Linked DNA regions of Homo sapiens: region 2 is linked to region 1. A link means that fine-mapping ties the variant in region 1 to the expression of a gene that starts in the linked region. Tissue or cell type: testis. Region 1 holds a variant in brackets; the other region holds the start of a gene. All regions are shown on one strand. Distances are between the middles of the regions.

What was found. PIP is the estimated chance that this variant, and not a neighbour inherited with it, causes the effect.
Region 2: PRMT8 starts here. The variant in region 1 is fine-mapped to the expression of PRMT8 in testis (GTEx, PIP above 0.99).

The regions. Positions count from the first base shown.
Region 1 is chr12:3,569,153-3,574,354 of GRCh38, reverse strand. It overlaps PRMT8 (protein arginine methyltransferase 8), which reads right to left. Exons shown (of 10, transcript NM_019854.5): 6 at 4,791-4,878. Among named protein-coding and RNA genes, the nearest start is that of THCAT155, 79 kb to the right of the region's middle. The variant A/C (reference allele first, on the strand shown) is at 2,442.
Region 2 is chr12:3,488,543-3,493,670 of GRCh38, reverse strand. PRMT8 (protein arginine methyltransferase 8) reads right to left here and starts at 2,468. Exons shown (of 10, transcript NM_019854.5): 1 at 1,971-2,468. The coding sequence starts at 2,045. It overlaps THCAT155 (thyroid cancer-associated transcript 155), which reads left to right and starts at 852. Exons shown (of 2, transcript NR_126055.1): 1 at 852-939; 2 at 4,069-5,128.

The DNA of each region.
Region 1 (5,202 bases):
ACAAATCTATACAGACAATTCCAACCATTTGGAAACCTTTGGGGTACATGATCTTTACTGTCTTCAAGTCCCAAAAATGGTGATCTTAATGTCTCATGGCCTTTGTGAGACCTTCTCTAAACGCTCCTGACCATATAACCTCTCCTGTACCCTCAACACCCATAGTACAGCATTTAGCACAGAATAGGCTCACAGATAATGTTTTTTGAATTGAGATTCATTCCCAAACATTTAATGCCTGCACTGTTTTGCAATGCCTGGTGTTTTAGTTACCTTTATATGGGTTAATTTGGGTCTTATCTCCTCAGCTGGACTGCCCCACCTTCAATCATTCAGAGCACAGATCACCCAAGGGATTAGATTTTTTTTTCTTCTTTCTGCTGGCCATTTATTTCCCAGTAGCCCTTTTTATCAGAAGTGGAGCAGAGATGGAGTAGGATACAAATAAATCACATTAATTATTTGTTGCAATAATTATTTGTATGCTGTATGCCAAATAAGTGTATGTGGGGTAAGAGCCATTGGTCATCAAGAAATATCATGATTATCTAGAAATTAAAAAATAATATCAGAGAGGCCTGTGAAGCTTTTGTTAATGGATGAAAACAGACTCCTAAAAAGGACTATACTATGGCATAATGTATGTAATTAAAGCAACAACAAAGCCCAAATCTACTATTAATACAGACTAGATTGACTCACACACACCCTCATTCTAATAGCCTGGCAGAGGCAATGCTCTTTTCTGGACATAGGTGTGATTCACCTGTCTCTACTGGTCCTTTTACTCACAATGCCCAGCATTAATGAAAAATTATAAGACACATGAGAAAGGGAAAAATATGACTTATCATCATAAGAAAAAAGTCATAGAACCAAATTTAGAGATGCTCAGATGTTAGAATTATCCAACAAGACTTTAAAGTATCTATACTAAGTATGTTAAAGAAGCTAGTGGAAAAGGTGGACAGTGTGCATCAATGAATGGAGAATTTCATTAGCGAGATGGAAACTTTTTAAAAAAGCCAGTGGAAATGTTAGAAATCGAAATAACAATATAAGGAAAGAAGACTTTTTAAAATGAACTTATTAACAGAATGAATATATCAGGGAATAACCAATAAAGTTGAAAACGGGGCAATAAAAATGATCCAAACTTAAACACAAAGAGAAAAAAGGGGTGAAAAAAATAGAGGATCCAAGCTCCATAGGACAATATCAAACATTATTTCATATAATGGGAGTTCCTGAAGAAGGGGAGAAAGATAATCAGGCAGAAAAAAATATTTGTAGAGATACTGGCTGAAATTTTTCTAAACTAACGAAACAATCCATCCACAGTTCCAAGAATTCCATGTAACCCCAAGCAGGATAAATAAAAAGAAAAACACACCTAGACACATCAGAATCAAACTGCAGAAAATCAATAAAGACAGAAATCTCAAAAACAGTCTGAGGAAAGAAAATTAAGTACCAGGGGAGAAATGTGATTTCTGATTGCAGAGAGCTGTAGCTACATCCTCCCTCACCACCCCAGCCCCAACCATCTGAGTTTCTCTGATGAGGCTAATGGGACTGCCTCAGAATGAGGTCAGAGAAAAATAGAACAAGTGCCACCAGATGCTACTTACAGATTCTCCTCTGTGCAGAAGGGAAAGTGTTTACACTAGATTGACACATTTTAGGCTCTCATGAAGAAAGTGGAATCCTTGCATAAAATGGGCTGGAACCAGAGGAAACTCTGGATGTCATGAGTGGAAGTGAAGCCCACAGACAGCAGCTGAGCCATCCAAGAGGGCCGCCCTTCAACCATCAAGCTATAAGCACTGCCACCTCTGCATGAGGTCTTTCTTTCAGTCTTCTCATCAGCCAAGAAACTGGTGCCCATCTCTCTCATTCTCAGCAGGGTGTAGATTCATGCACTGGGTACAATTCATGGGTTGTGCATGAAATTGAATAGAACATCCACCGAGTTTCCTTCCATTTTTGAAATTCTGTGTATTTCCTTTATAGTAGAAAATGTGTGTAAAATGATTGCTCCTCTCTAAGAGTTAAATACTACACCTTGCACATCCCTCTGCTGGTTCACTTTCCTTCCTTCCTTCCTTCCTTCGTTAAAATTATGTATTGTGAGCCTAGTATATGCCAGATATTTATCTCTGTCTCTATGTGGTCTCTATTCATTGGTGAGCAAATGGAGGGCAGGTTCTGCACTGACCTCATTCTTGCACTCCCATGTTGCTGTGTGTGGTTGAGAAAGAAGAAGAAAGGAGGGGAGGGAAGGGAAGGAGAGGGAAGGAAATAAAAGAAAAGGAAAGGAGAGGAAAGGAAAGAAAGCTCTCCCTCTAACAACTTACTTTCTGAAAGGGGCTGAACATGTCTCACTCTCCTGCCTCATTTCAAAATTTTTCCTTCTTAGCTGGTTCTTGAGCCAATAGAAA[A/C]TTGCTTACAATTGTTGCCTTAGCAACCAGCAACCTTTGTGCTTTACTTCTGATTTAGAACTCATAGTAACCAAAGTCTCCATTTATTTGAAATGAATTTCTAAGTGGGTTTGCTTCCTTTACAAAAAAATAGATTATTTTCAAAAATGTAAATAGAAAATGTATTTTAAATACATTTTAAGTGTCTGTTTCTTGGTGTTCTTTTGGGGTGGGGAGGAGGTTGGGGTATTTTTCAGAGACTCTAGAACAAGCACAAGATAACATGGTGCTAACTTTCAGATTTTTTTTTTTCCTTTTCCAAAAGGTATGAACACTGCAATGAGAATCAAAGAAATCACATGATCTCCAGTCTGGGGCCAGTGCCTTAGGAGCCCCTCCCTGCCCCAGGCTGGCTCATTGCAATGTGCATACCTGCAAAGGCTCCTGACACAGGTATCTTTGTTGTGGAAACCATGAGAAAGTTTCTTAAAGAGGTGTGCCTCGGGTTGGAGCTCAATAAATATCTAAGTGAACTTGACAATGAAGAATGTACCTAGAAGCTTTCCTCCTCAAAACACTATTCAGTACAATTGCACAGCAAGAACTCCAAAATGCAGCTCCAGGGCAAAATATGTCCTATTTATACATGCATTTGATCAACACTCACTGTGGAGTTGTGTCTGCAATCTTCCATGAGAGTACATCTGTCCTAGATTCTGAGCCACCAGGGGCTTGGCAGTCAGGCTCACTTGCCAGAGCCAGGGGCAGAAAGGGGCTTAGCTACACAGTCAGAAACTAGTTCCCATCTAGTCCCATTATAGGACCAAGAACTGTCACGTCCTTTAATATATGTCATCTCACTTAATCCTCATGACAAGTCTGTGGGATTGAGAAAATTATCCCTTAACTGAGGCCCAAAGGTATTAGATAATTTGCTCAAGGTTACCCAGTTAGGACATGGCAAAGCCAAGATTTAAACCCAGGGCTGGCAGTGTGCAAAGCATTTAACCTGGGCCCCCCTGCCTCTCACTGTCCTCATTTGGTATTTTGCCTCCTTCCCCCAGGAGGTCAAATAGTGGAAATCACACCAGATTGGCTGGAGGCAGACAGCAACCAGAGACGGTTTCCAGGGCACAGAGCTTCAAACAGCTGTCCCACTTTTGTCTTCTTCTGAACCTGGCTCTGAACTTCACACTTTGAGTTTATATTTCCAGAAAGGCATGAACCCACACAAATACACACATCCATAGCAGAGTCCAGCCGAGTTTTCATCAGTGCCACTAACGACGATTAGATGGCAATTGTTTAAATCCACAGAGCCACAATTTGTTGAACTGTGGATGGAGTCTTAGCCTCTTGGAGGCATTTATTCTTCTACTCAATCTGTGAACCCCTCCACAGTAATCTTGCCAAGTAGGAATGGACCACCCTGTTGGGGCAGGAACCGCAGATGTGCCCAGTCTGATGGATAGGTTGGAGCTTCTGCCTCTTGCTTTAATTTGGATTTTTGGGTGTTTGCCTGTTTGAGGGGTTCTTTGCTCCTTTGTTGTATTTGGTTCTGGTTGAGGAGACACAGCCATGTTCAACTTTACAAAAACATGTTTGGTATAATCTCATTAAGGATCAGGCCTGTGTCACAGAGAAGTGTCACCCTTTACGAGAAATAGGATAACAGCCCTTTTCAGACCAGGTAAAACATTGCGGGGGAGGAGAAGTTTTTTGGCTTTATTGTTCTCAGAGAACCACACACGCCTAGCTGATAAGGCATTAAGAATACATGTTTAGATACGAGCCCCTGCCTCATGCACACATGCACACTCGCCTTTCGTTTGATTGTTCAAAGCAAAATCTCCACTCTTTCCCACCCCCTCTGCTATCTATTCCTCAAAAGAACCTCAAATAATATGTATTTGCATAAGAGAATCAATATTATTTTGATAAGTTTGAATGGAATGGAGGCAGGATTCAAAACAATTGGCCTGGCAAGAGACCTGCTACTTCAGACCCCTGCGGTGGACTTTTGGGCTAACTGAACCTTGACAGGTTTCAAGCCACTTGCCCTGCTGATCTCTGCAAAAACTCAGCTTCTGCTGCCTCAGTCCAATTTTTAATTCACATTGCATTCATTCTTTCACCCCAGGACATTTCTCTCATCCCAGCCATATGGCTTATTTTCTGTCTGTAGACCTAACACCCTTGGGACTAGATAGAAACATTTAGAGAGCAGACTCCAGAAAGGGTCCCAGATAAGCTCCTCTTCAGGGACAGCAATGGTGTTCATGTCACTGCCTGCTCATCTCGGGCCCACTGGAGTGCCTCCCACCCCAATTGTGCAGTGGAAGTCCACCGGAGAAGCAAGAGGGGACTTACAGTGGATTTTGAAGTCCTTGTACTGTCTGTCTTCAATCGCTACCACGTACAAAGCTGCCCGGTCTGGAAACATAAGCCCTCCAGGTTTCTGTTGATGAATTGTGGGGAAATGGGTCTCGTAATCTATTCACCTGACAAAGACATCACATTTTGAACTGCACATAGAGTCACCAGACAAGCACCCCCTTGCCACCATCTCTCATGCAGTGGACTGTCACCTTGTCTGGGGTGAGGGCTAGGACAGCAGTGCTCAATTTTTATTTTGGAGCAAGGAAAATTTAAGGGACCTAGGTGGAGTCAATAGGACAAATGAGGTGAGGTGAAGGTAAATCCAGTGAGGAGCAGTGAGAGATGTTACGACTTTGGCCTGGAGAAGCCCAGATGAATAGCACACCTGGCTCTGGCAGCCATG
Region 2 (5,128 bases), 81 kb after region 1:
AGACTGGCGCGCGGCGCTCTGCCTGCTCCGGACGCCTTTAACCCTCGCCGAGGCTGGGAGAGCGCAGCAGCCGCCGCTGCACACTGCGGAACCTGGCAGGGGTCTGCACCCAGACCCCGCGCGGCAGCGGGGGTAGGAGGCAAAGGGAACCGCAAAAACTTTTTCTTAGAAAAATGAGCCGGGGGTGGGGTGAGGTGGAAATGCAGGGAGGAAGCGCCTTCTCGCTTCCAGGGCTCCAGCCACCTGGCAGAGACCGCTACGTGCCCGCTCGCTCCACACTTCACAGAAGCGCGGCCTTGAAGCCCTGGGCTATTTTTAGAAACCCTTTCGGCGGGTGGGCGATCAGAGGGCGGAGGGTGAGGGGAATGGTAAGGATGGCTTTCTGCTGGGAGGCTAGCCGCCTCGCACTACACATCATTCCGAATGTCTGCTCTCAGGTGGGGGCTGGGGAAGAGGAAGTGGTGAGGGGACGGCGGGCACGCAGGCTTTGCCCTAACTCAAGGAGACAGCATTCGCTACTGAATGCCCCGCTGCGTTCAAGTCCCGGAGCGTGTTTGTTTTGAAATTGACAATTGTCAGATGCATGCTGCTTCTAGTCTCTCAGAGAAGGGGGATTTATAAAGCTTTGCTGCCTACGCCGTGGGGTAGGGGTTTTAGCGCAGAGTTAAGAACTCGAGGGAAGAAGACCAGGAAGGGTCTCTCTACCTTTTTGCATTCCGGCAAGACAGAGGGACAATCCCCGCGCCACACCCCCATCCCCGCCCCCCGCTGCATATGGGTAACCATATGTGAAATGTGCGGCAGCCCCACCAGACACCCAGCTATTAATAGAGCCTGGGAGTTTGCTCTCTGTGTCTTTTTCCTGCCACTGAGTAAGGGATGATCTTCACACACATGCCCCACTCCGCCCCCATCTCGGCGCACCGTTTCTCCAGGAAGGTAAGGGGGCTGCCCACGCTGATCCCCTTCGTGACTACAGGTGCCCAGAGCCTACGGAATAGTCCGGTTGTTGTAATGACAGCGGGGTCAGAGGGAGGCGAGGGATCACAGCCTCGAGTCTCGGGACGCAAAGCCCAGCAGGGCTCTCTGCGGCTCAGGGCCAGCTGGAGAGTAGAGAAAAAGGCTGCCGAAGGCGGGGGCCGAGAACACAATTTGCGGAGCTAGAGCGACCTCCTCAAAAGCCCTTGCGGGACGGGTGGCTGCAGACCCATTTCTCACTGCAGCCGGCGGCGCGCAGCCCCCACAGTCCGCGCAGGCTCGGCTGCTGCAGGGGCGGACGCTGTCCCTGGTGCTGAAGGTGGCCGCGGCCCGTGTGCCCTGCCGGGTTTAGCTACCCAGAGGCGGCTCTGATATCTGAGGATTGCAGACTTCTCTCTGGCCCAGATCTGGGCCGGAGGGTCTGTAGGAGGTGCCCGAGTCCTCCTGCCGGCTCGGCCCCCGCGGCCGGGGGCTCTCCGCGCGGCTGCGGGGACGGAGAGCTCGGGAACCGACTCGAGCTTGAAGGGTAAAGCTGAGGCAGCGGCAGGAGACGGTCAAGGCACTGCAGGGGGCAGACCTGGCCCCAGGATTACCCACCCCAGCTCTGCACAAAGCCGGGACCCGGGAGCCCTCACGGAGCCCAGAGGAGAGGGCAGGGGAGCGCGGCTGCCCGGGGTTTGGGACTTGGGGGCGGGAGAAGGGAGCAGCGGGTGGCAGGAGAGGGTGATGGGGTGAGAGTGACTGTTTTGCATTTTCAAGAGGGAGGGGACCTGAGACATGAACTTCCCCCCCACCCCCCACCAACACACACACACACACACACACACACACACACACACACACACACACACACACACACAGGAGGAGGCCGGCAGAAGCGAGCGGGATGAAACTGGGGAAAGTTTGGCACTCGGCGCTGAGCGGCGGCGGCGGCGCGGTGGTCCGGGTGGGCGGCGGGGTCTCCGAGAGCCCCTGCTCGCTCGCCTCCTTACCTCGGTGCTCTCGGCCGCGTTCTCCGCCATTTTCCTCCTCAGGAGCAGGCAGCGGGAGGAGTGTTTCATGCCCATAAGAGCCGGCAAGGGTTTGGTGATACCGAGATAGTAGAGGAGGAGAGAGAGCTGGTGTCGCTTTAAAAGAGAGAGCGAGAGGATGGGAGAAAAAAAAAAATCCAACCCAGCCCCTCAGCTGGAGCGTCGGCCGGCACAGTCAGCCACAGCGGAGTCTGTTCTGCAGTCTCCACTTTCTTTTATTTTCCTCCCTTCTCATCTGCTCCGGATTCCTTCACACGGTTTCAAGTTCTTCTCGTGCCCCCGACCCCCTCCCCGCCCCTCTCCACCCGCGCTGCGGGCTAAGCTCGAGGGAAGCAGCCCCGAAGCCTCCGCGGCGGCGGCGGCGGCGGTCGCGGATCCTCTCCAGGCTGCTCGCAAAGTCCGGCCGGCCGGAGGCAGCCGCCAACTCCTCTCAACTTCTGCCGATCCGCTGGGCGAAGCAACACGCTTCCTGCGCGTCTCTCCTAGGGGCTGAGCCGGGTGAGTGGGGGCGGGGTAGGAGGTTCGCTGGAGCCGGCGGCGGCTGGGCGCAGACCGAGGGCCCCCAGCGCCCCCGGGCCCGCCCCCTCCCCTAGTCTCCGAGGGTCTCGGCCGCCTCCACTCCCTGGCGCTGCACACAACTTACGTGGAGGCCAGGCCCGCGCGGGGGGCCCAGAGAAAGCCGGCGCCGGGCGAGGCTCTTGCAGGTTCTCAGACCCGGTGCGCGTGCTCCCACCTAGGGCGAGGTCCGGGCGAGACCGGGCCACAGTTAACTCGCACCCTCCCCACCCCGGCCCACCCCAGCTCTCCCGCTCCTCTGCCAGTTCCTGGATCCTTCCTCGGCGAATTACGATTTGGGGAACGAAGGGGTGGGTGTCTGGATGGGGGAGGGTCCTTAACTCCTTCAACTCTAGGGGTAAGTGTGGTGTCATTCTTTATCCTTTTCTCTCTCTCTCTCTCTCTCTCTCTCTCTCTCTCTCTCTCTCTCTTTGTACCCAAAGCCCTTGGGACTCCAAGCCCCTTTCAGGCTGAGAGGGAGGGGCAAAGGTGGCGGCCAGAGTGGCTTGGGAAAGAGGGTGGGAGAAAGTCAAATGCGAGACTGCAGTGCCCCCCCCCCCACTCCAGTCTTCCCTGGCAGCCCCCTGCCCACGCATTTCTCTTCTCCCTCCTCACCCTTCCCCCACCATCGCCAGATTTTGAAGTCCCTTTTATGGGAGAGAGGGAGGATGTCACGTACCCGTCAGGATTCTCTTGATCCTTTTTTAAGGGAGTTTGGGCGGCAGCAGGGGGTGTGAATTTTTATACAATGCATTCCTGTCTTCACTTTGAGAGCTTCTTTTTCTCTGTTTTACTGGCCATCTGTCGGGCAGTGGGAGATAGAACAAAAGCGGGGGACCCCATTCTGCCTCTCCCTTTGCAACAGGACACTCAGGCTGACTCCTTAAAACAGCTGTACTTTTAAGCTTTCAACCTACGAGTCAAGGACTGAGACCTATAAGATGCTCCCTGAGCACCCGGCTGTCTTCACTTCATCTCTGTACTTGTTTGGGGAGGTCCCTCCCAAATGCCCTATTTGCTTTTTATCATCACCTTCGATAACTGGGAAGTGTGAGCCTGACTGTCCTCAACTAACCCCAGAGTCCATTGAAGAAAAGGTCTAGAATCATTCTCAGTAGGAAACATGCCTCCATCATCTGGTCCTCGGGCAAAGAGAGGATACATTGCACTAAGTAGAGGTGAGAAGTGAGGGATAGAGACAGGAGAGGATGAAGAATGAGAAGGATGAAAATGTAGCAAGAGGCTTGAGTGTGTGTGTGTGTGTGTGCGCGCGTGTGTGTGTGTGTGTGTGTGTGTGTGAAAACTTGAATAAAAAGATGACCTTAACCTCCTTAACCTTTTCCCTTCTCAGAACACAGACCTGGGTTAGAGTTGGGGGTGAGTGAGCAGAATCCTTGACAACACCCAGTCGTTCCTCCCGTTCTGTCAACATGCAGAAAGTGGTAGGAAAATAAATGTGAATCTGGAGAATGACTTTTATCCTATTGAATTCCCTTTTCTCTAGGCATCTTCTCAGAGACAAAAGATTCTGAGAGACATCTAATTCCCTACCAAAAGTGTCTCAGTGTTTGTGCAATCAAAGGAAATCAGAAAAGAAATGATCCTCACCGCTCTGTGGTCCAATCCTCTCATTTTACAAATAAGGACCCCAAGATTGGAGAGAGGAGGACATTTGCCCATGGTCCATCAGCAAGCAGAGGACCCAGCTCCCCAGCCTCCTGACTTTCAGTCCGACACTCTGCCCCCACCCAACACTGCTTCTGCTTGTGCATGCCTTCTGTGACTAACCAGGGAGGAGGGGAGCTGAAACAAGCTCCCACCGAAATAGGCTGCTGCCTGTGCGTGATTATGTTGCTATGAGAACCTCAGTGGGTGTGTTTCCTCCTTTCGCTGTTGAAATCTTTTGCTTTGCTTGGCTTCTCCCCAAGCACAGACACGTCTCCCTTTGGAATGGGGAGTGGAGAGGCTGAGATGGAGAGCTATATTTTCATGGCAAGAGTTTTCTGTCCCAACCCATCCAACCCAGAGCCAGCCTGGGGCTGTGAGTGAGGAGCCTATGCCACTAGGGTGGTTCCATAAAGGCTGGAGTACAGGAGTGAACTGTTTTGAAAGTGGATACTCTAGCCCCCTGTTGAGCTGTCTTAGAACAAAGAGGTGCTGTTCCTGCTATGTAACCACCTAAGAACAAATTCACAAGCAAGCTAATTATTACTTTAAGAGACGAAGTTTGGGGTGATTTGTTATACACCAAGAGATGACCTGAACATTCACATCTTATGATTGTGAAAAGTGCCTAGCACATAGTAGGTACTTTGTAGAACTATTTTCTCAGCATCCCTACCATTCCTGTGAATTCAGTCTTTCTCTATCTCTTTTGCAAAAATATATTAGCATAGTCTTTCACCAGGTTAATTAGTTTAGTCATCCCACAAATAATTTACTAGGCATCTCTTAAATGCCCAGCTCATTAATAGGCACTAGCCTTAACAAGAGGCAACAAAACATATTGAATTGACCATTGATGAGCTCTTAATGTAGTCATGTTGGATGCTTTTACAGGTACA